3 separate regions of the Homo sapiens genome follow, and all the other regions are linked to region 3. Evidence: fine-mapped expression QTL. A gene starts in region 3. Each other region holds a variant in brackets. All regions are shown on one strand. Distances are from middle to middle. Region 1 overlaps DYNC1LI2 (dynein cytoplasmic 1 light intermediate chain 2). Region 2 holds the start of LOC107984821 (a long non-coding RNA gene). Region 3 holds the start of NAE1 (NEDD8 activating enzyme E1 subunit 1).

Region 1 (8,000 bases), 100 kb before region 3:
CCATAAGAAAAAAAATGCTACATTTTATGAAAACACCTAACAAGAGAAATGTATCATTTCCATTTTCTGTATAAAACATTCACACTTATCTGTCCATCTCATAGCACTGATCAGACCAGGAAGCTAGGAAAAGACCCTTTTGCATCAGTGGAACTCCTTGAAGCTTTCCACAAGTCATAAGGCAGGGCTTGGTACGAGCCAATTAACCAGAGTGCAATTACATTAAAAACCTCCCCCAAACTTTCCGTGGCACATTGCATTATGGTAAAACCAGAGGTTCATCACCTATTTTGTATTAGTTAGGCCAGCCTGTGATAGTAAAAACAAAAAATTTAATTTAAAAAATAAAGCAGGAGCTATTTAGACAACAAAATTCAAAGTAAACTAATTCTGTAACTGCTGACTTTGAAGACATCCCACAGTGACTGTCTGCCCCACAACACATATCCGTGGACCCCAGTACCTCTCACGAGGACATAGCCTGGGCCAAGCACATGGGTCCTGGGCAGCTGCCATCGTTCCCACCCCTGGGTCAGCTCCGCCTGACTCAGGCACCCCCACAATTAGTACATCTTTCGTAAGTTAAAGATGCATTCAAAATAAGCCTAATTCCCATTTTGCTTAGTGTTTTGTTTGGAAATGCTTCTAACAATGATTCTTCAACTTCTACTGAATGCACAGTATTTACTGACACTGCTCATCTCCTCCTTCCTCCACCTCCCTCAACATTCAGCTTCCCCACCATCACTTGTCTCATTACTCCTTCTGGTCTTTCTTTCCTGGACTTTCTGCTACTTAATCTGCTTCCCAAGAACAAGTGAATTTACTAACATGAAACTGGTCAGACTAACCATCATCTTACCAATGATTTCTTGGTCTCATTTGCTCCACCCTGTTAGAAAGTGGGCCCTCTTTCTTTCACTCTACCTTCCCCTCCACAAGAAGCCCAGATGTGCTTGCCTCCCACAAAAGAGCCACATGCCCCAGAGTCCAAGGGTTATCCTTAACAAAGGGTCTGACATGTAACCTTCCTAAATGTGCATTTCACACTCGGACAAGCCAATGAAGTTTTTTTTTTTTTTTTAAAGTTCATCTCCCCTGCCCCAAAAAACTGATAGCATGTGCCATATCAGAAAAATCCTGGTCTTAGCAGATCAATATACATAGTTATTTGGTCATTCGACATATGCACTTTTTAAGGAGGTTCAGGCTTCATTTTCTGTTGAAGAGTTTGTTACCATAGAGTCTGGCTTTCGAGTCATTCTATCCAGTTCTTCCTGAACATTTGACAACACAGTCTTTTGTCCTGAAAAAAAAAAAAAGCAAAAAAGCAAAGTAATGATGTGAGAAGAGGAAACAATTTTTTTTAAAGGAGCATTTAAAATTATACGCCTTCTATAATCACTTGATGACAGTAACCTTAATAAGAATGAGGAAAGCCCTTTTCTACTGCAGTGGTGAGGAGACCCCAACTCGGCACATCCTAATCCCAAAAGTCACAGGCCAGTGCTTCCTCCAACTCCAAGGGAGTGACTTGACTGCTCTCTGGCGGGGGGTGCCTTTGTGCCAAATACAAGAACCTTTCTGAAAACCCTCTCACCACCCAACCCTGACCCCTGTGCACTCTCACCACCATCTTCCTAGAGGTAGTACCTGAATTTCAGCAACGAAGGAAACTATTTTCTTTGCCCCAGATAGGTGTTTTTGTTTATAACATTCTAGACTGACTCAAATGGATAGCCTGAAAACATTATGTTTCAATAAGAATAAGATAGTTCAGTCCTGCACAAAATCTATACTTGTATTTTTCTGCTGTCAGACACGAACAGGCCTAGAAATAGACACCTATTTCCCAGAAGGGAATACTACCAGCCCAGAGTCTGGGCCACTAGACCAGACTCTGAGTTTCTTAGAACATAGGAGCCACTGGAGGCCCAGGCTGCCCCAAGTGATTTCCTGAGGGTCTCCTCTGCCCTGAAGACATCAATTAGGGAAAACAATGTATAAACATACCTTATAGCCAATGGAAAATGGAAAGCAAAAACCCCTTAAAATGTCCTCCAGCTTCTTGGGAAAATGTGTAATTCCCAAGGAAAACATGTTTTGTTTTGTTTCAGAGATCTCCAAGACATAGACCCGCCCTACCTGCTTACATGGAAGGACAGGTGGGTGGCTGCCACAGAGGTGTGTATGTGACAAGTAGGGAGCTTCAGGGAGGAGGAGGCCTTGACTCTGCAGTGAGACAGTGAGGGTTCACAGCCAAACTGGGGGCAGTGGAGTAAACAAAAATCCTTACAAAGCATCACAGAAAAAAAAATAGAACAAATAAAACATCACTGGTTCAGAACAACTAAGGCTTTAGTATAATTTTAAAAAATTAAAAGTAGGCCAGGTGCACTAATCCCAGCACTTTGGGAGGCCAAGGCAGGTGGATCACCTGAGGTCAGGAGTTCGAGAACAGCCTGGCCAACATGGCGAAAAACCGTCTCTACTAAAAATACAAAAAAATTAGCCGGATGTGGTGGCGCGTGCCTGTAGTCCCAGCTACTCGGGAGGCTGAGGCAAGAGAATTGCTTGAACCCGGGTGGTGGAGGTTGGCAGTGAGTTGAGATCATGCCACTGTACTCCAGCCTGGGCGACAGAGCAAGACTCCATCTCTATCAAAAAAAAAAAAAAAGTCAGCCGCAGACGGTGGCTCACACCTGTAATCCCAGCACTTTGGGAGGCCAAGATGGAGGGATCACCTGGGGTCAGGAATTCCAAGACCAGCCTGGCCAACATGATGAAACCACATCTCTACTAAAAATACAAAAAATTAGCTGGGCATGATGGCACGCGCCTGTAATCCCAGCTACTCGGGAGGCTGAGACAGGAGAATCGCTTGAACCTGGGAGGCGGAGGTTGCAGTGAGATCACGTCATTGCACTCCAGCCTGGGCAACAAGAGCAAAACTCCACCTTGGAAAAAGAAAAAAAAAGTCACTGGTACACCCTCCATGGACCATGACTTCTACTGGAGAGGTTCTACAACAGGGCCACATATGTAATTTAGGCTATACCTCAACTCACCCAACACCCAGTTCCCGAGAACCCAAATGTACACAAATCCCACTCTCAATGTGCCAAGGAAACCTGCATGGTAGTAAGGCAATCCCACTGAAAGCACGGCACACTGCTCAGTAGGAAATGAAGACCTGCTTCCTTGCTTGGCTATTCAGGACACTGCAGGGTCTGCAGGGCAGGTGTCTGCCTCTCCATCCTTGCAGCACTACTCAACCACAAGAGTCACAAGTCTCCAGGGCCCTTCTGTACCTGACTTCTTGGCTGTGCTCTGCACCCCACCAGCACCAGGACTTCCAGGAGAGCCTGTCTTTTTACTCAACAGACTGTTGAAGAAGCTGGCCAACACCCCTTCACTTGCTGCATTATCTAAGGAAAATTAAAGAGAAAAAAAAGCATCATATAAACTGGAAGACTTAAAATTAAACACCCTAGTTCTCAGCTTGGCATTAGCCACTTGTGGCTATCAGCTTCCTAGGATATTGATAACATTCATTCGCTACGATGCCTTTACACTGCTACTGCTGAGGCTACTTAGCATGATTACTAAGTGGAACCATGTTTACATTTCCCACTTGTTTGGGAGCAGAATAGATAACCTGTGCTCCACACCACCTCCCCGTCCATGAGACAGTGTTTTTCAAAGTTGCATGAGCACTTAACATTCCAAACCTGCTGTGAAAAGCTCACATCCTGAATAGAAGACACCCATCAAACAAGCATTAAATAAAACTGTTTTTTAATGATTTTACTGCAGGCAGTATCTGTGAGTATCACTAAGTTACTGGGATAAAAGCTACTTAATCTGAAAAGTAATTGAGCTTGACAAGAGAAGTGAAGGGGGAAAAATCCCCACAATTCATAGACAGTCATCATATAAACATAATGAGAAACAAAGTTACAGATTCAAAATACACATTTTAAAGTGACTCCCTCAGCCAGGGGTGGTGGCTCACGCCTGTAATCCCATCACTTGGGGAGACCAAGGGCGTAGGACTGCTTGAGGCTAGGAGCTTGAGATCAGCCTCGGCAACGTAAGTGAGACCCCTACCTCTATAAAAAATATTTTTGTTTGTGTTTTTTTGAAATGGAGTCTTGCTCTGTCACCCAGGCTGGAGTGCAATGGCACAATCTCGGCTCACTGCAACCTCCACCTCCCAGGATTAAGCCGTTCTCCTGCCTCTGCCTCCCGAGTAGCTGGGATTACAGGTGCCCACCATCACGCCTGGCTAATTTTTGTACAGAGAAGGTTTCACCATGTTGGCCAGGCTGGTCTCAAACTCCTGCCCTCAAGTGATCTGCCCGCCTCAGCCTCCCAAAGTGCTGGCTTGAGTCACCACGCCAGGCCTTTTTTTTTTTGAAACAGTCTCTCACTCTGTCACCCTGGCTGGAGCATGGTGGCATAATCACAGCTCAACTGCAGCCTCAATGCCCTGGGCCCAAGCAATCCTGCCGCTTCATCCACTTGAGTAGATGGGACTACAGGCAAGCACCATCATGCCCAGCTAAT[T/G]TTTCAATATTCTGTAGAGGCGAGGTCTCACTATGTTGCCCGGGCTAGTCTCGAACTCTTTAGCTCAAGCTATCCTCCCACCTTGGCCTCCCAGAGTACTAGGATTATAGGCATGAGCCACTGCATCTGGCCTACAATAAAAATTTTAAAAATTAGCTGGGCATGGTGGCACACGCCTATAGTCCCAGCTACTCCAGAGTTGACATGGGAGGATCACTTGAGCCCAGGAGTTTGAGGCTGCAGTGTGCTATGATCGTATCACTGTGCCACAGGCTGGGTGACAGAGTGAGACCCTGTCTCTAAAAAAATAAAGTTACTATTTTGCATTCCTCTCTGAAGGAATGAGCAGGGCCTAAGTGAGGTCTCACACAGAGCCAGGTGCATGGGCTACCAATTCTAACAAAGGAACAGGCCCTGGTCTCTGCCTACCATGGACCTTCTTCCTCTGGAATGGGGGAAATGGAAAGTAGCCCTTATCGGGGAAGAGAATAGCCTGGCTTCCATGAGTCTCCACCTTATAGACTCAGCCACCCAGCCCCTGCAGGGCTCAGGTCTAAAACTAAACTACTCTCCAAAGAGACATACTTTTGAGGAATACATACTTTTGATGTTTGGGTCCGGCTTTTTTACTGACGTGCCTGGGGAGGAGCTAGGCACACTGGCTGGCCCTCCCCGACCCTGGGTCCTTGGAGAGCCAGAGGGTCCTCTTGCAGGAGATTCCTAAGTCCAAAAGCAGCTAAGGTCACACACAGGCATAACAATAACAAAAAATACATATGCCACAAATGGAGACATGCTTCTGAGGGATATTTTTCACAGGCTATGGTACAGGACTGGGAGTATGCTCTCAATTCAAGCCCTTTCTGGCTCTCTTTCTCCTGAGAGAAAGACATCCAGATAACAAAGCCAGCTCACTCTAATTCCCAGAGTTGTATTCTTTCATCAGAAACTTCTTGAGTTTCTTTTATGTTTCTGGTCATGGGTCTTTAGGGAAACCAAATTCCCACTGAAAATACAAAACCCACACAAATATACGCTCTCACAAATAATGGTATAAAGTTTGATGACACCCACAACACTGGGCCTTGACCCTCTGTTTAGTGTAAGGTACTCACAGAAGCTCTCGTGGGAGTGGCTGGTTGCTTGGCAAGGAGTGACTGCAAAGAGAGGGACAAACTGGCTATTAACCAAGGCCTGCAGAGAGCACTGAAGGTCTAGAGAAAAACTTACTCCAAGTACTCCACTAGAGGGCACTATTAACAACAACTAAGTCCTATGTTTTATACCACAGATGCCAAAAAATTTTAATTGAGCCGTTTGGTATATGGTGAAAAAAAATACTCCAAGTAACCAGTTTTGAAGCTAAGGAAGCAAGCAAAGGACAGAAAGGAAAAAGATGGAAAAAGAAGGAAACAGTTGGAAAAAGAACCATCAAAACTTCCTGCTGACCTGCCTGTACCACTGGGCAGATGATAGGTGGACCCAGGACACATCTAACAATAATCTGGGTGACAGAAATGGGAAGTCTGCATTCTAAACTGTCAGCTTGGGGAAGTTACTCTCCTCATCTGCAAAACAGGCATCACCTGCCTTTATGTACAGGGCTGTGTGAGGCTACATGAAATAATGGAAGTGTGGTCAGGTTACTTGGTTAACTGTCAACATAGGAAGTATTATGCCAGAAAACCACATTTCCAAAGAAAGAGCACTTAAAAGATGCGAATCCTACTATTCCTGTAGGAGAGTCTGCAAGGCAGGTAGGTGATCTCCTAAGGAGGTGGTCCATCCCCAACTAATCCTAGAAATAAGGAGGGAATGAGGAGACCTGGTCTCAACCCCTCTACCACTGCAAGCTCTTTGTGACTTCCCACATGCAGACACCCCCAACCCCACCCTAGGGACTGGCATTTCATGCATGAGAAGGCCTCTGTTCTAACCTCACTGGTCTTCTTACCTGTTGCTTCATTAGGAACACCTGCTCATCTTCTGCTGCCAACTCTTTGTCGTGGACCAGCTGTGAAACAACATACATGTTTGTGGCCACAGGCCAAGAATACTCCTAACCACTGTCAAACTTCATGCCGAAAGGAGAGTCCGAGGCTCAGGCTTCAACACAGGTCTGGGAGATCCCTACTGAGACTGCAGAGTAATATTTTTCTAGCCTGGCACAGACCTCTCCCAAAACCAGCCGCAGCATGTAGCCAACTGGCATTTTTAAGTCTGGCAGGTTCTAAACACCTCAGGGTCTGCAGGACATCACATGAGGGGATCCAGTAACAGTAATCCAGAGGCAACGGCAGCACTGGCAGGACTTAATGGGAAACACCACCAACTCCAGGTGAGCATTCCATCACTCCTTCCCACCAGCCCTGAGCCATTTACATAACGCCAGACCTCATTTAAAGATCAACAAAAAGGCCCTGGGACTTACTACTCCCCACTACCCCCCACAAACTATACAATGTGTAAGACCTGTTTCTTTATAGTTTTTTTTTTTTTTTTTTTTTTGAGATGGAGTCTCGCTCTTGTCACCCAGGCTGGAGTACAGTGGCCCGATCTCGGCTCATTACAACCTCCGCCTCCCAGGTTCAAGCAATTCTCCTGCCTCAGCCTCCCAACTGCTGGGATTACAGGAATCAGCCACCACGCCCCATCTTTATAGGCTTCTTTTTGCATTAAAAAACACCTAAACCCTTTTTCTTCTTTTCTTTTTTTGATATGGAGTCTCACTCTGTTGCCAGGTTGGAGTGCAGTGGCGCAATCTGGGTTCACTGCAATCTCTGCCTCCCAGGTTCAAGTGATTCTCATGCCTCAGCCTCCCAAGTAGCTGGGATTACAGGCGCTTGCCACCATACCCAGCTAATTTTTGTATTTTAGTGGAGATGGGGTTTTGCCATGTTCGCCAGGCTGGTCTCAAACTCCTGACCTCATGTGATCTGCCCGCTTTGGCCTCCCAAAGTGCTGGGATTACAGGCATCAGCCACCGCGCCCGGCCCTAAACCCTTAAAGCAATTGTCTTTGACTACCTTTCTCACGGGAGGTTTCACAATAAAGTCTTCATATGCATCTTCCGGCTTCACGGTTGTAAAATTTTCATGTAAAATAGCTATTTTCTTTTCATTGTCCCAGCCTGCAGGTCTAAAGGCAAAGAGAGAGGGACTGAATTGCTTTTCCTGGGGCTGCCTTAGAGCATACTCAGATCACATTCAGGACTCCTGGGTAGGACACTTCTCACAAGATATAGTGTGTAGTTGTTGGGGGTTGTTTGTAGCTTTTGGCAGATGTGCCAAAATACACTGTGGGTATAATCCATCAGAACATCGCAGGTCCTGCTCCATACTGAGTTCATGGGCCCAAGGTCTAAGGAGCCAGTATGAGATCCCATTCCACAGGCTGCCCCACTCAAAAGCATTTAGCACTCTCCCACAACT
Region 2 (8,020 bases), 74 kb after region 3:
AGAGAACAGGGTGTGGGGCACTCTGCCTGGGCTCTGCCGGCGAGGAGCAGGAACTGGACAGAACCAGAGTGAGCTGGAGTGTCTCCTCCTTAGCCTGGGCCCTGGGCAGCAGGGCTGGGAATGGAATTCTCCAGTTGGATGGAGCTGTTCCTGGAAAATCCCTATATGCCCTCCCAGAAATGTGCTCTTGTGCCTGGCTCTTGCTTCTTCAGAGTTGGAGGAGAAGGGACCTTTCTGCTGCTAGGCAATTCAGGCAAGGCCCTTACCCTCTCTGGACCCCTGGGCCTAGACTCCAGGACAGATGAGCAGGGATTTGTGCATCTATTGAGTGCCATCTGTCAGCCTCACTAAATTCTCTCACCCACCCTGAGAGGCAGGGATCAGGGTTCCCATCATTTGGGAAGGAGGTAGATGCTCGGAGATGCCAAGTGGCTTACCCAAGGTCACATAGCGGAGTTGGGACTCAAGCCCCTACCGATCGAGCGTCAGCCTGCACGCAGTTCCAGCCCCCGACCTACATTTAGGGTCCCTGAATGGACAGAGCAAGCCCGCAGGCTGAGGATGCCACTGCCAGCTCAGGTCCACCTGACTGAGGCCAGGCCTGGCCCTGTGCCTGCCACTCAGAATAACCCTTGTGGTTCTGGGCATGGATCGTGGCCCATCACCTGGGACCTATTTTTGTCCTTCGGGTAACAAGGAAGTCTCACCTTGTGCAGTAACTGTTTGGGACAAGGATGGAACATATGACCCCCCAACCCCAGCTGATCTTGCTGCCCTGCTGGGAAGTGACCCCAATAGGGAAGGGGAGGGCCTGCCCCAGCCACTTCCCAGAACTTGGCTTCCTACCCTCATCCCCCTCTTCTCAGCAGCCCATACCCCTGCACACACACACACACACACACACACACACACACACACCCCATAACCAGAGTCCCAGAGCATCTACATTTGTCCTTAGGATCCATTGCCACGCCTTATGCAGTGGCAATGCCACTTTCTCACATCTAGCTGTGGACCAAGCCCATTTCCTCAGGTTCCAGTCAGAGGGCTCTAGAACCCAGGTACAGTGGCCAGCCAGGGATCTAGCATCTAGAACTGGACATTCAGAATTGGGGGCCTGGAATCCTATGGGGCAGTGGCTGATGGCATTTGAAGAAATCACAGAAGCTGTGGGCACAACTACATCCACTCTGAAAGGTCAAGTGCCATCTCGAGGGTCAACCCCAAAAGCCTTATATAGAAGGGGGGATTCCTGTATGGAGTGGAGCACAGAGACATAGAGGGCACCCCAGCAGACTGAGAGGGGCTGCTTTCTGCTGAAACTAGGCGTGTACACATGTATGGGGATGGGGTGGGAAGGGTCATGTCCCGAACCCAGTAACATAAAATAAATGCATAGAAAAAAGACTGGAAAGAAATCTGGTAAAAACATAACTATAACAACAAAACCAAGAATGACTGCAGCTGTAATGACAATAATAACAGAAGCTGTTCCATTTTTTGAGAGCCAATTATGTGCCAGCCTCTGTGCTAAGTAAGGGCTTTGCTTGTATTATCTCAGTTAATCCCCACAGCATGCTCTTCTCTGGGTGGGGGTGGGTGGGCAGTGGCCTGTGGGGTGTGCTCTGTAAATGTGGTTGTTTTCTGCCAGGTCTGCAGCTTCCGCAGAGGTAGACAGAGGAGCCCTTAGGCCCCATCTATAGGAGATGTCGTGCTCTCCTTGCCAGCAATGCAGGGTGTGAGATGGGATGGCCAGCCCCCTTGGGGATGCCTTCGGGGAGCCAGCCAGGCCCACTGAGCTAACCTCAGCCCCCACTTGGCCCTACTCCTCTAGGCGTTGGGGCTCAAAATAGCAGCTGCTCGAGAGCTGACAATCAAAGGCCAGCTAAAAAAAGGCCCCTCAGTCTGGGCTCTGTCGCACACGGCTCGTAGAGCCTATTTTAGGGGAGAGGGTGCCGACATGCCAGTGGAAAATCCATAGGGCGGGAGTCTCCCAAAGTGGGAGACCCATATGCCTCCCTCTCCCCACTCTGGCCCCCCCACCCAAGTGCTCACGTGCACACACACTCACATTTTGCAGCCGTCAGCCTGCTTCCTGACCACTGGACCCTGTCATCTCCACCACAGCCCAGGAGAGGGATGAGGAAATTGAGGCTCAGAGATGGGAATTGACTTGCCCAAGATCACGAGGCTGGGAAGTAGGCAGGACAGCCACCAGATGGGGCCACTGTGGCTCACAGTTCAGTGCTCTCCCGTGGAAGAAGCCACATCACTGAGGAAGCCAATACATTGTTCTCTGGAGTGCCCAAAGCTCAGAGATGGGGCCAACGGTGGGGTGTTCTGGGTTGGACTGAGGGTGAGTAGGAGCTGAGGGTGACCTGTGGTCTTAGTCTCCGCATGGGAAGAAATCTCACTAGAACCCCCCAGGCCAATTCTGAGGGGACCTTGCCTGGCTGTGGGAGAGGCAGCTGGAGCGGGTCCTCATCGGCACTGAGCCCAGCCCAGCCCCCTCATCCTATCCCTGTGACCACCTCACGCCCTGCCCCGCCCAGGCCCCCAGAGGCTGGCAGGCCCTGCCAAGTTTCCAGGGAATGTGTCAGATAAAGGGCTGGTGCTCATGACTCTCTCCCACGTAGCAGCTATCTCTGACCCTACTGCCACTACCACTGCCACCGCCACTGGGAGGTGGATAAGAATAGCAACAGCCCCAGTGAGTGGGCACCCACAGGGACACAAACCATGTCTTTAGGTGTCCAGCCTCAGCCTCAGACTGAGGATGAGTCTCCAGGTTCCCCTTTCCATCAGTTCCAGCCCCACCTAGCTCCCCCATCATCCTGGGCCCAAAATCCTACCACATCTTAGGGTAAAACTCCAAGCCTCATCCCTTGTGGCTGCTGCCTCAGCAGGGGGAATCTGGAGGGGATGCCATCGCCACATTGATCCTGAGCTGGGGCCTGAGCCCTGCCCTTCACTGGGGAGCTGTATGACATGGAGCTGGACATTGTCCCTCTCAGGGCCCACAAGCAGGGCAAGGTGGCACAGCAGCCCCTGGAGAATGAGATAGCCAGCCGAGGCCTCTCCAGGGGCTGGGTACCCCGTTGTCCTGGTGACCACAGTCTAGTCTGGCTTCTGAGTGCCCCTGTGAATTCTGGCTTTCTGGTCAGTGGGGATGTGAAGACAGTGAGGGTCCTCATGTCTCACAGATAGGGGTCACTGGGATACGACCACTGGGTGGTGTTGGGGGGGCCCTGCATGAGTCCTGTGACACTCCTGTGAGGGTGTGAGGGTAGCTGCGTGACTACAAGGTAAGAGGCTGTTGTCATGGAACCCATGGTGAGCGTAGTTGTGACACCGGAATCGGGAGATCCAGGGAGCCTCATCTCCAACTGTGACACATGGGGGTGATGGAGGGAGCCGAGTCCCAGTCCCCACATCAGTGACTCCTGCAGCTCTCACAGCCTGACTCATTGCATGGCCCCGGACCTGGTACCCCCAGCCTCCTCGCCCCCGGCTCTGGCGCCTTTCTCTCCTCGCGTCCTCCCTGTTCTCAGGCGACTCTTCCTCTTTTGTACCCCCCCCATGTCACCCACCTACCAAAGGGGTCCCAGGGAGGAGGTCAGGGATGCTAGGGAAGAACGAGGAAGGGTGGGCCGAGGCAAGCTCCTCGCACACTCACACATTCCGATGCGTGCATCACACAGACCAGACTGCAGCATATACTTATACACCCACAGACACACGTGTGCACACACGCCTGGTAGAGTGACTGGGCCACTAAGAAGCCTCCCAAGCTCAGTCTTCCAACATCAGCCCTGTCTGGTAGGCCCCCACCACCCCTTAAGTCAGGGTCCCATGCCGCTGAGGCCCTCACATTAGAAACGCATCCTCCCGCCGCAGCAGTGTGTCTGGAGGTGACACCCTAGGAAGAACTTCTGCCCCGAGGCCCCAGCTAGAGTCCTGGGTGGGTGTAGGTAGATGTGGGTGGGGTGGGGTCTCTGAGGGCCCGAGACTGTTGCTTTCTTTGTGGGTGAGGGCCAGACTGACCTCTGGGCCTCCGGCTTCAAGAGCCCTAATCGCTGGGGCTGGAAAAAGTTTAAAAATATCCTCATGTTTACATTCTTTCCAAGCTGCCTCCTGATCCTCCGTGCTGGGTCCCTTTGATCTGGCCCAGTGCCTCTGGAAGGGGCCTGGGAGAAGGGGAGCATGAGGCCTCTGCTGGGGCCCACCCCTCAACCCCCTCCAGCTCCAGCCCAGAACCCTGTGAGACCCTGGACATCACAGACCCTAAGAGCACCTGGGCACTGGAAGGGAGCTGGGGCTGGAAGGGGTGTCTTGCACTCTTGCTTTGGGGCTGGAGCTGGGGCCCCTCTCCAAACTCCCTCCCAAAAGCCTGGGCCTCTTGGGACCTCTAGGGAGTGTGTGTAAGTGCGGGGATGTAGGTCCCTCAACAATCCATGCACTGGGGAAAGTCACATTTACTGAGCCCTGCAGTGCCTGGCACTGTGCTAAATGCATTGTGCAGGGATTATCTCATGTAGTTTTCCTAACGACAAAAACTTGTATCACCAAGTAAGCCAAGGCTCTGAGAGGTGAAGCAGTTTTCCTGGGAACACAT[C/T]GCATGGATAAGCACAACACATGCTCTTCTACCCATAGAGCTATTGGTTGGCCCCCACCTTGCTCTAGCAGGGGCGAGGCCCTGCCTACAGAATGAAGCCTGCCTCACTAGCATTAATCTCTACAGGCATTCACTGGCCCACTGCCAAGCCTAGAGACCAATCAGCTTTGTGTCTCTCTTCCTCTGCGACCCAGGATAAGCCACACCCCCTCTCTGATCCTCACCTTTCTCTCTTTCTGTTTATGTAGAGACAGAGTTTCACTTTGTTGCCTAGGCTGGCCTTGAACTCCTGGCTTCAAGCAATCCTCTCACCCTGGCCTCCCAAAGTGCCAGGATTACAGGCATGAGCCACCGCACCTGGCCACCTTCCTCTGCAGAATGGGGCTGAGGATACAGGAGAGTTTTATGTCCCCAGATGCCCAAGGAACCTGGGCCCTTGTCTGTGGAGAAGGGGCTTGTGGACCTGGCGGTCAGCTCCAGCAGTGACAACCAAGAGTGGTCCGGGGCCTGGAGGCCCGAGGAAGAAGCCCTCAAACTAGAGCAGATGCCTTCATTTGCCCTGGTATCCTGTCATCCACCCTTTCGTCTGTGGGTCTCCCATCCACCCGATTACCAACCCACCCATCCATCTACCCACCAATCCATCCAGCCATGCATCTGCCTAGCCATCCACTTATTCATTCACCCATGCACCCTCCTATCTCCCTACTTATCCATCTAGGATAAGGGCCAGAAAGTGGTGGTTATAGCTCAAGTGACGCATCTTATGGCTGTATGAACCTAGAAATTTCCCTCCTTCTCTTTGCAATTCACCTTTCCATCTTTACAAGAAAGAGCTGATCTGGGTGATCTCTAAGGCCCTGCTGGGAAATCTTGAGGGAGCAGAGACCACCTGAACGCTGTGGACATTTCCAGAGAGGTAACACGGACCTTGGACAGATAGTTATGCCATGTACCGTGGTTCTAAGACTCCCAGCTACGGCCCTTAACCTCCCTGATCTTCAAGATCCTCCACTGCAAAATGGGGCCAATAATCCACCCTCGTAGGTTGATAGGAAGATTAGATGAGACACTACCTCCAGAAGATTTGCACCCTGAAGACTTCTGAGTGCATGCAGGCTGAGCAGAGGATATCCTGGCAGAGGGGCAGGGAATCCCTGCCTGGATGAGGGTAGCCAGCAGAGCCTCCAGTGGGGGTACCTGAGCCAGGATGACAGGGGCCAGCCTCAGAGTCCAACCCCTGGGCTGGGGATCCTGGCTGAGTCTTTGCCAGGTTGCCCGCCCTGTCTCTCTTAGCTGGGCTTGGCCCCTATCCCACAGAATCTGCCAATAGTGGAGAGATTATCTCCTAAAAATAGGGCCTGGGCCCCACAGAGGTTGTTTTTCTCCCTTTCCCGTGATTGACCATCATCAGCTCATGGTGCTTGGGACAGCAAGTCCCACCCTGACTCCCCAGAGATGGTTGAGAAGGGGACATGGGGATCAGCATGTATCTTGAGTCACCCACAGGTCAGGGATTAGAGGTCAATCTGGAGAGCTCAGCTCCTACTTAGCAGGGCTCAGCCGGGCTCAGCAGAGCATCAGGACATGGCTTAATCTTGGGCCAGGGTCAGGGGTTCACCTCAGAGAGGGGCAGCTCCAGAGTAAGCCACGGGGGTGCCTGTCCCGCTCCGATTGTCTCCATCTAAGTGACTCCCCTTCTCTGATTTCCTGCAGATGCCCTCATGCACTCACCAGCCTGTGTGTGAAACACAGCAGTGCCTTGGAGCCTACACTGGGGCAGAAGGACGCATCCCCAGCCTCACCTCACATGCTCCTGACCCATGGGGCCTCACCATCCTGCCCAGGGCCCTGCAGAGACTGAGGGGCCTCTGCCCATCCCTGGGTGTAGGTGACTCATGCACAGGAGCACAAGGTGCTCACACATGAGCAGAAGATGGGGACTCACAAGGTTTTGCCTTCCCATAGCAAAGATGACATCCAGGAAAACACAGAGATGACACCCTCAAAGACACCCCTCCTTGACCATCACCTGCATAGAGTTCACCCATCCAGGGTCTGTAGCTGGTGGGCTCTGGATGCCCACAAAAATGACCCACTTTGCTGTGGCCCCAAGCTCTCACCAATAGCCCATATGATGTCTTCATGTCCTTCCCTGCAGGGGACCTCAGTCTTGTCCTTCAAGCCCAGACCCTTTCTATGTGGCAGGAGATGGGGAAGGGATGAAAAAGCAGGTGTGTGCACACTCACACACACACATGCACACATAGACACTGAGACACAGACATACCAATCCCATAGGGCCCAGCCCAGTTCTCTGGGGCTTTATTATTGGGCAAACACCCTGACATTTGGAGCACTCCCATGGGCAGTCCATAAAGTTGGTGTCCAGGCTCTGCAGACATGCCTGGTGATGGTGATGGTGCCTCCACCCCAGGGCAGATGGAGGGGCTTCTACTCTGTCCTGTCCCCTGCTGGATCTTGGGTGCTGGGCTCTCTCCCAGGGGACTCAGATGGAGCCAGAGGCCAAGCTCCCAGCTAGAGCTGCCTGGGCCATTCAGACAGTCGCCTTCAGGGGCACGCTGTCTGCTGGTTGATCCGGGTCCTTCTTCCTTGACATGGTCCAGTGGGTGAAAATGAGGATGAGGAAGATTCCTGTGGGGCCCAAGAGGGATGTATCAGGCCTCAGAAGGGGCTGTGGGACTTGTTCATCACGAGGGACTTCCTGTGATTGGCATTGGATTAATGAAGAGATGAGTTTCCTGGACAGCATCCTGAGGCTGGGCTGGGTATGACTCTGTGGTGGTGCCTGGAGAAGCTTGACTCCTCGGCCGGCTTGGCCCCTACCCCTCTGAGGCTGACCCAGTATACTCAGCCTCCAAAGTCCCCTTCTCTTGGGGACATCGGGGAACCAGTAAGTTGGATCCCAACTCCATGGACCTCCAAGAGAAAGGCTCATCACAGCAGTGTGCTAGAACCAGCAAGGAAAACCAGCAAGGAGAAAATTTGAGGGGCTAAAGAAATAAAGGGGATAGAAGGGGTGGCTTAGACTGATGCAATTAGGCTAGAAAGACCTGGGTTCTGTCACAACCTGACTGTGTAACCTTGGACCAGTCACTTAACCTCTCTGAGCCTCAATGACCTCATCTGCAAAATGGGGAGATACCAGGATCTACCTCACAGGGTTGCTGGGAGGATTCCTGGCAATAGTCCCTGCCACACAGTCAATGTGCAATCATGTGACCGTAGATGCTACTATCAATGATGATGACAATGACTATGATCAAAGGGCAGGCGCATAATGACTAGGAGAGTTGGGGGCTTCCTTTTTCAGAGCTAGGGGCACCATGGGGACAAAGGTGTTTATTTGGAGGCTGTGGTCCCAACCACCCATCGCCCTCGCCC
Region 3 (8,020 bases):
AGGGAGAGGGTCAAATTAGAAACAGAAACTTGGTCTTCCAGCCCCTTATCAGCCTGGGCACAAGAGCGACACTCTGTCTCAAAACAAACAAACAAACATTTAAAAAGCGTCTTTGGATTTAAACCCTCATCTGTTTTCTATTTCATTTATTCTTTGTTTTGTTTTGAGACAGAGTCTTGCTCTGTCACCCAGGCTGGAGTGTAGTGGCATGATCTCAGCTCACTTGGCCTCCCAAAATGCTGGGATTACAGGTGTGAGCCACCGTGCCCAGCCCTATTTCATTTATTCTTAAATTATGTTAGATGTGCCAGGTGCAGTGGCTCACACCTGTAATCCCAACACTTTGGGAGGCCAAGGCAGGCGGATCACGAGGTCAGGAGATCGAGACCATCGTGACTAACATGGTGAAACCCTGTCTCTACTAAAAAATACAAAAAATTAGCTGGGCGTGGTGGCAGGCGCCTGTAGTCCCACCTACTCGGAGGCTGAGGCAGAAGAATGGCGTGAACCCAGGAGGCGGAGCTTGAAGTGAGCCGAGATTGCGCCACTGCACTCCAGCCTGGGCGACAGAGCGAGACTCCGTCTCAAAAAAAAAAAAAATTATATTAGATGCATTTAAGTTAAGTTAGATGCATTTAAGATCTCGACATAGGGCTTATTACTGTGACTTCTGCAAAAGCTTTACCAAGAAAACTGAATTATCATCTGAAAAGCCTCACATCAACTTCTACAGGAGTGCTTTAAAGTATATTACCCAATGAACATTCTAATAGAGTGATTAATGTGCCTTCCCTGTTACCTGATTTAAAGCAGATTACCCCTTATTATGTAGTCAGTATGTCCTCCAGAGCATGTCAAGCAACTGCCTTGTTTTTTGTTTTTGTTTTTGATACAGGGTCTTACTATGTTATCCAGACTGGTCTTGAACTCCTGGGTTCAAGCATTTCTCTCGCCTCAGCCTCTAGAGTTGCTGGGACTACAGGCACAAGCCACTGTACCTGGCTTCATTTGTTTTTGTTTGCTGAGCATCCATCTTTCCACTCCACTGTATGCTCCATAAGGGCCCAGACAGCTGTCAAATGTATGGAGGAATCGCCTAGAAGAACCAGATGGACCGTAAACGCCTGTTTTCTCCATCAAAGTATGGCACGTAGAAGACACCTGACATATATGGTTGATGGATGCTTAGATAGTTGGAGAGTAAATTTAAGAATACTGGTGCATCTTGGCTGGGCGCAGTGGCTCACGCCTGTAATCCCAGCACTTTGGGAGGCGGAGGCAGGCAGATCACCTGAGGTCAGGAGTTTGAGACCAGGCTGGCCAACATAGTGAAACCCCGTCTCTACTAAAAATACAAAAATTAACCAGGCACAGTGGCACGCACCTATAATCCCAGCTACTAGGGAGGCTGAGGCATGAGAATCGCATGAACGCAGGAGGCGGAGATTGCAGTGAGCCAAGACCGCGCCACTGCACTCCAGCCTGCGCAACACAGTGAGACTCCGTCTCAAAAAAAAAAAAAAAAAAATACTGGTGCATCTCAAGCAGGGTGAGATAGTGTGTGTGCCTGTAGTCCCAGCTGCTTGGGAGACTGAGGCAGGAGGATCACTCCAGCCCAGGAGATCAAGGCTGTGGTGTGCCAATAATCATACCTGCGAACAGCCACTGCACTCCAGCCTGGGTAACATACTGAGACCCACCTCAAAAATAAAACAAAAAGAATACTGAGGCCAGGCACTGTGGCTCATGCCTGTAATCCTAGCACTTTGGGAGGCTGAGGCAGGAGGATCACTTGAGTGCAGAGGTACGAGACCAGCCTGGGCAAACCCCCATCTCTAAAACAGTTAGCTAAGCATGGTGGCACATGCCTGTAGTCCCAGCTACTCAAGAGGCTGAGGCAGGAGGATCGTTAGAGCCCAGGAAGTTGAGGCTGCAGTGAGCAGTGTTCTTGCCACTGCACTCTAGCCACTGCACTCTAGCCTGGGTCACAAAGTGAGACCTTGTCCCTGAAAAAAAAAAAAAAAAGAATCCTGGTGTGTCTCTAAGTAACATGTTTCAAGAATAGGCCAAATGAATCAGTCCTCTCTACTATCTTGCTGGCCCAACTAACGTGAAGTAAGGAGGGGCTTATTGACTGCTGCATTTTGCTTCTAACTGCTTCCCTTTGACACTTCAAAACCAGTTCTCACTATGAAAGTAAAGTTTGGGACTTAAATGGAATGCCCTCAGCAAAAACCCTCTTTTGTTAGAGTTGCTTAGTAACCTCAACTATCTTCTCAGCTCTGTCATGTACAGTTATACCTGCATTAGAAACACAAGAACTCCAAGAATTTACAAGAAAACCTAAGTTGGTTATAAGGACTGTTACCCTGTTTCTTCTCCGAAAAGCTTGGAAGCAGGATGTAACTGAGTACCTCCGAAAAAGCCAGAAGAGCCTTAGTTTACATCCTGGCTCAAAGATATGGGGAACTCTGGGCAAATTACCTAACTTCTCCAAGACTCTGTTTCTCCAACTGTAAAGCACAGGAAATGGTTGCTTTCAAGGGTACTCTCAGAACTAAGTGCCTAAAGCCTCTACTACAGCACTAGGCTGGTGGCGCAAACAGAAGCTCCAGTCCTTGGGGACATATAACTTCTGTTGTCTCAGAGGCTCCAGGAAGGAGGAAAGCTGAGCAGCTTTGTTATCTCCACAGCCTCAAGACACAGAAGACGCTCAATAAATAAGGAATGGGTAGTGCAAGGAGAAAAGGCAAGGGTGGGGAAGTACCCAAGGACCCTCCTGATGGCTTAGGCCTGCACTGTCCATTAAGGTAGCTGCTAGCCACATGTACTACTGAGCACAAGCAATGAGGCTAGTGTTAACTGAGATGTGCTGGTAAGTGTAAAATACAATATTTATACGATAGTTTTGGGGGGGCTTTTTTGACGGAGTCTCGCTCTGTCACCCAGGCTGGAGTGCAGTGGCACGATCTCGGCTCCCTGAAACCTACACCTCCTGGATTCAACCGATTCTCCAGCCTCAGCCTCCAGAGTAACTGGGATTACAGGCGCGCACCACCACGCCCAGCTAATTTCTGAATTTTTAAATAGAAACAGGGTTTCACCATGTTGCCCAGGCTGGTCTCGAACTCCTGACCTCAGGTGATCCGCCCGCTTCGGCCTCCCAAAGTGCTGGGATTACAGGCGTGAGCCACCGTGCCGGTCCTCCAAGACAGTTTTAAAAAGGAAAATACTCATGACCAGCTTGGGGAAAGGTGGCAAAAACCTCGTTTCTACAAAAACAAAAATAAAAATAAAAATAAAAATTTAAGTAAAATATCTCAAGAACTTTTTATATTGTGTTGAAATAGTAATGTTTTGGACATATTGGGTTAAATTGTATTTAAAAATCAATTTCATCTGTTTCATTTTACCTTTAGTGTGGTTACTAGAAAATTTATAATTACATTTGCGGCTCACATGAGACTAGCATTTTATTTCCATTGGACAGCGCTGGCTGAGAACAAAACCTAACCCTCTGTGCCGCCCTCGCGGCCGGGATGCGGTGCGCCCCGGGCCTCCCCATTCGGAAAACGAGGAGCCTGGGCGCAACGGGGCCGGCAGCCGCCTTAGCTACCCGGCTGGCGCTGGGGACCCCGTCCCCCGAACTGCACACCGCGTGGCGGGGGAAGGGGTCCCAGCCCTCGCGGAGCACCTTTGGCCCAGGGCGGGAGCTCCGAGCGCCGGCTTCCCGCGCCCCGCACGGCCCGGCCCAGCCTGGAAGAAGGCCTGAGGAAGGCCCGACCGCGCCGCCCGCGCCCTTAGGCCCGGCCCGAATGCTGGAAAGCCCGCCGGCCCGCCCTCGGCTCGGTGAGCCTCGGCTCACCTCAGCTGCCGGTCGTACTTCTGCTCCTTGAGCAGCTTTCCCAGCTGCGCCATGGCCGCGCCTGCCGCGCGGAAAACAGCCGAGCCCCTGCGGAGCGCCGCCACCAGCTCCACAAGCGCGCAGGCGCACTGAGCGCCCCTTCGCCGCTACCGTCTCCTGCGCGCTGCCTGCAGGGGGCGCCGCACTGCACTGCGCACGCGTCGCCGGTACGCCGGGGCCTAAGCGGCCCTGGTACCCGAGCGGGTCTGGGGCTCTTGGTCCCCATCGGCCAGAAAGGCAGACCCGCTAGCCTGCCAATTTGCCCTCTGTCCATGCAGTAATTGGGGGCGACTGGGGCATTGGAATCAGGCATACTTGTATTTCGACCACTTAACTGGCTGTGAGATCTACTCTTTACCTCTCAAATCCTCAGTGTGCTCACCTGTGCAGTGGGGATAAATGGGTCCCAAGTGTCTTTTGACCTTAAATGAGATTTTGAATACAGGAGGCCAGACTCCCCCCAAATCTTGCATGAATAATAACTTTCATTTTGATGATCATTATTTTTCACCCATTTCTTCCTCTCATGAAAAGCCCACAAGCCTATTTTGAATCACAAAGCTAGGGGCTCCCTGCTGCAGATGCAGACAAGTCCAGGGCTCTGTTCTTGGAGAGTTTAGTCTCATGAAGGAAGAGGGACAGCAAACAAGCACTTACCAGACAATGTGGCCTTCCTCTAGATAGAGGGAAGCAGGGTGCTCAGGGGTGCACAGAAGAACCTCCCCAGTCCCCCTCTCCAAGAATGTTTCATGTGGTTTGGAGATGGAGGAGTGTTTTGTTTTGTTTTGTTTTGTTTTGTTTGAGACAGGGTCTCTCTCTATTGCTCAGACTGGAGTTCGGTGGTGTGATCTCAATTCACTGCAGCTTCAACCTCCCAGGCAGCAATCCTCTCACCTCAGCCTCCCAAGTAGCTGGGACTACAGGCATGCACCACCACACCTGGCTAATTTTTGTACATTTTTTGTAGAGATGGGGTTTCGTCATGGCCCAGGCTGGTCTCAAACTCCTGGGCTCAAGCGATCTGCCCGCCTTGGCCTCCCAATGTGCTGAGATTATAGGCATGATCCACTGTGCCCAGCTGGAAGGGTGTTTTAAGCATAAGGAACAGCAGGTGCCATCTCTAGGAAGCAAAGAAGGCATAGCAAGCTGTAGGTGCTAGAGTAAGTTTGGTCAGGTGAAGGATAGGGAGTGGTTGAGAAGGTTTGAGAGACAGTTGGGACAGGCTGGGTTCTGAAGACTGTGAACATAGATCCAAGGAGGAATTTAAAGTCCTCCACTTCCTGAAAAGACCCTCCTTTCAGGAAGAGAACGGCTGTCCTGTGGGGATGGGAGGCCAAGGAAGGAGGTTACCCCATGAGAACAATTGGGAGGGGGGTGGTGGTGCTGAAGACAAGGTGACCATCTGTGAGGGAGACGAAGACTCCTTCCCTGCTATCTCGCAGACCCTACAGGCACCTTCAGGTTAATAACTGCCTGAAATAAGGTGAAAATGAACACAGATCCCCACCCCCAATCCCCTAGGATGGGGACCAGAGAGATGGCACAGTTTGATGGTAATGATGCAGTGATGATGAATTGCACTTTGCCCTGGGCATGGTCTCCTGGACTAGGGTGAGAGTACACCTTCCCATACCTTCCCTTGCCCTTACCCAGCTCCCATGGAACACACTGATGGGAAACAGAGGTGTGAGGCTTTCCCAGCTCATCATGTGTTTGTGCTGTCACATTTCCTTCTCCAAGTGGACAGGTAAAATATAAGGGATAATAAAATACACTCCGGGAAAGTAGGAAGGTCAAAAGGCAGCAGATGAGAGTTCACTGCTTAGTTTCTCATACCTATGGACTTCATGAAAGGAAACACCCACAAATTTGGTAGAAGGCTAGTCATATTGCCCGTGAAGAAGTAAATGATTTTGAAAAGGTTTGTGTTGGTGTTGTCTGTAAAATGATACCTCAGGGTATCAGTTTCCTAGGAATGTCGTAACAAAGAACCACAAACTGGGTGACTTAAAACAAGAGAAATTTATTGTCTCACAGTTCTGGAGGCTGGAAGTCTACAATCAAAGCACGGGTGGGACTATGCTCCTTCTGAAACCTGTAGGGGAGAATCCGTCCGCTTCTTCTTGGCTTCTGGGGGTTTGCTGGCAATCTTTGGCTAGCAGCCACAGCACTTCAGTCTCTGCCTCCATCATCACATGGCATTCTCCCCTCATGTCTCTGTGTTTCCTCTCTTAAGGACACAAGTCACATTGGATCAGGGCTCACACTGATGACTTCATCTTAACTGGTTTACACTTGCAGAGACCCTGTTTCCAAATAAGATCACCTTCACGGGTACTGGCAGGTTAGGACTTCAGTAACTTCTGAGGAGGACATAATTCAGCCCAGAAGCTTTGTATTAATATTATCATTATTTTTTTAGAGGTGGGGTCACACTATATTGCCCAGACTTGTCTCAAACTCCTGGGTTGAAGCAGTCCTCCTGCCTCAGCCCCTCAAAGTACTGGGACTACAGGCATGAGCCACTGCACCTGGCCCTGCCCATTTTTAATAGGGTTATTTGTTTTATTGTTATTGAGCGGTCTGAGTTTGTACATTTTGGATATTAGTCCCTGATCTAATGTATATTTTGTAAATATTTTTTTCTCAATCTGTGGGTTGTCTCTTTATTCTGTCATTTCCTTTGCTGTGCAGAAGCTTTTTAATTTGGTATAAACCCATTTGTCTATTTTTGCTTTTGTTGCCTATGCTTTTGGAGTCTGGTTACTATTTTTTGGCAGCAGTGGGGGACAGGATCTCATTCTTTCACCTGAGCTGGAGTGCAGTGGTATAATCATGGCTCACTGTAGCCACAACCTCCTAGGTTCAAGCAATCCTCCCACTTCAGCCTCCTGAGCAGCTGAGACTACAGGCACCCACCACCACACCTGGCTAATTTTTAGATTATTTTCTGTAGAGATGAAAGTGAAAATAATAATAATAATTCAACCCGTAAAACCATGTAAAGGTGCCTATGCTGGAGCAGAGGAGGCTGATCAGACACAGTTCTTTTGACGGCCCTGACATGAAAGAATTCAGGGCCCACTGGTGAGTTCTCCCTGTTGTGGAGGGTGGAAACCAGATATATCAGACCAGGAAGCCATGGTGTAATTCATTTAAGCTATTGGTTTTCAAAGTGTGGTCCTGGACCAGCGGCATCAACATCACTTTGGAAACTTGTTAGAAAGGCAAATTCGGCCAGGCGCGGTGGCTTACGCCTGTAATCCCAGCACTTTGGGAGGCAGAGGCGGGTGGATCATGAGGTCAGGAGATCGAGACCACGGTGAAACCCCGTCTCTACTAAAAATACAAAAAATTAGCTGGGCGCAGTGGTGGTCGCCTCTAGTCCCAGCTACTCGGGAGGCTGAGGCAGGAGAATGGCGTGAACCAGGAAGGTGGAGCTTGCAGTGAGCCGAGATCCCGCCACTGCACTCCAGCCTGGGCGACAGAGTGAGACTCCGTCTCAAAAAAAAAAAAAAAAAAAAAAAGAAAGGCAAATTCTTGGCTGGGTACAGTGGTTCATGACTGTAATTCCAGCACTTTGGGAGGCCAAGGCAGGAGGATTCCTTGAGGCCAGGAGTTTGAGACTAGCCTGAGCAACATAGCAAGACCCTGTCTCTACAAAAAGAAAAAAAAAAATTAAAAATTAGCCAGGCATGGTGGTGTATGCCTGTAGTACTAGCTACCTGGAAGGCTAAGGTGGGAGGATCACTTGAGCCCAGGAGTTTGTGGTTGCAGTGAGCTATGATCTCGCCACTGCACTCCAACCTGGGCAACAGAGTGAGACATTCCTCTCTTAAAAAAAATTAAGTATTAAAAAAAAAAAAAGAAAGCCAGGTAAGGTGGTTCACTCCGGTAATCCCAACACTTAGGAGGCTAAGGCAGGAGGATTGCTTGAGCCCAGGAGCTCGAAACCAGGCTGGGTGACATGGCGAAACCTTGTCTCTGAAAAAAAAAGAAACACAAATTCTTGGACCTTATCCATACTTGCTGAATCAGAAACTGTAGAGTGAGGCCCAGGAAACTGTTTTAACAAATCATCCAGGTGATTCTGATACATGCTTGATCCTACCCTGG

Evidence for each region.
Region 1: its variant is fine-mapped to the expression of NAE1 in whole blood (INTERVAL, PIP 0.93).
Region 2: its variant is fine-mapped to the expression of NAE1 in lymphoblastoid cells (GTEx, PIP 0.93). The same link has a PIP of 0.9 or more in esophagus mucosa.

Annotation. Positions count from the first base shown.
Region 1 is chr16:66,722,517-66,730,516 of GRCh38, forward strand. It overlaps DYNC1LI2 (dynein cytoplasmic 1 light intermediate chain 2), which reads right to left. Exons shown (of 13, transcript NM_006141.3): 8 at 7,596-7,707; 9 at 6,524-6,583; 10 at 5,685-5,726; 11 at 5,172-5,289; 12 at 3,312-3,428; 13 at 1-1,306. The coding sequence ends at 1,206. Among named protein-coding and RNA genes, the nearest start is that of DYNC1LI2, 25 kb to the right of the region's middle. The variant T/G (reference allele first, on the strand shown) is at 4,570.
Region 2 is chr16:66,901,220-66,909,239 of GRCh38, forward strand. CDH16 (cadherin 16) reads right to left here. Exons shown (of 18, transcript NM_004062.4): 18 at 6,903-7,270. The coding sequence ends at 7,173. It overlaps LOC107984821 (a long non-coding RNA gene), which reads right to left and starts at 4,041. Exons shown (of 3, transcript XR_001752244.2): 1 at 3,872-4,041. RefSeq lists an enhancer at 1,954-4,438. The variant C/T (reference allele first, on the strand shown) is at 4,616.
Region 3 is chr16:66,826,982-66,835,001 of GRCh38, forward strand. NAE1 (NEDD8 activating enzyme E1 subunit 1) reads right to left here and starts at 3,995. Exons shown (of 20, transcript NM_003905.4): 1 at 3,866-3,995. The coding sequence starts at 3,918. RefSeq lists silencers at 3,470-3,679, 3,690-3,749, 3,731-3,955 and an enhancer at 3,719-4,219.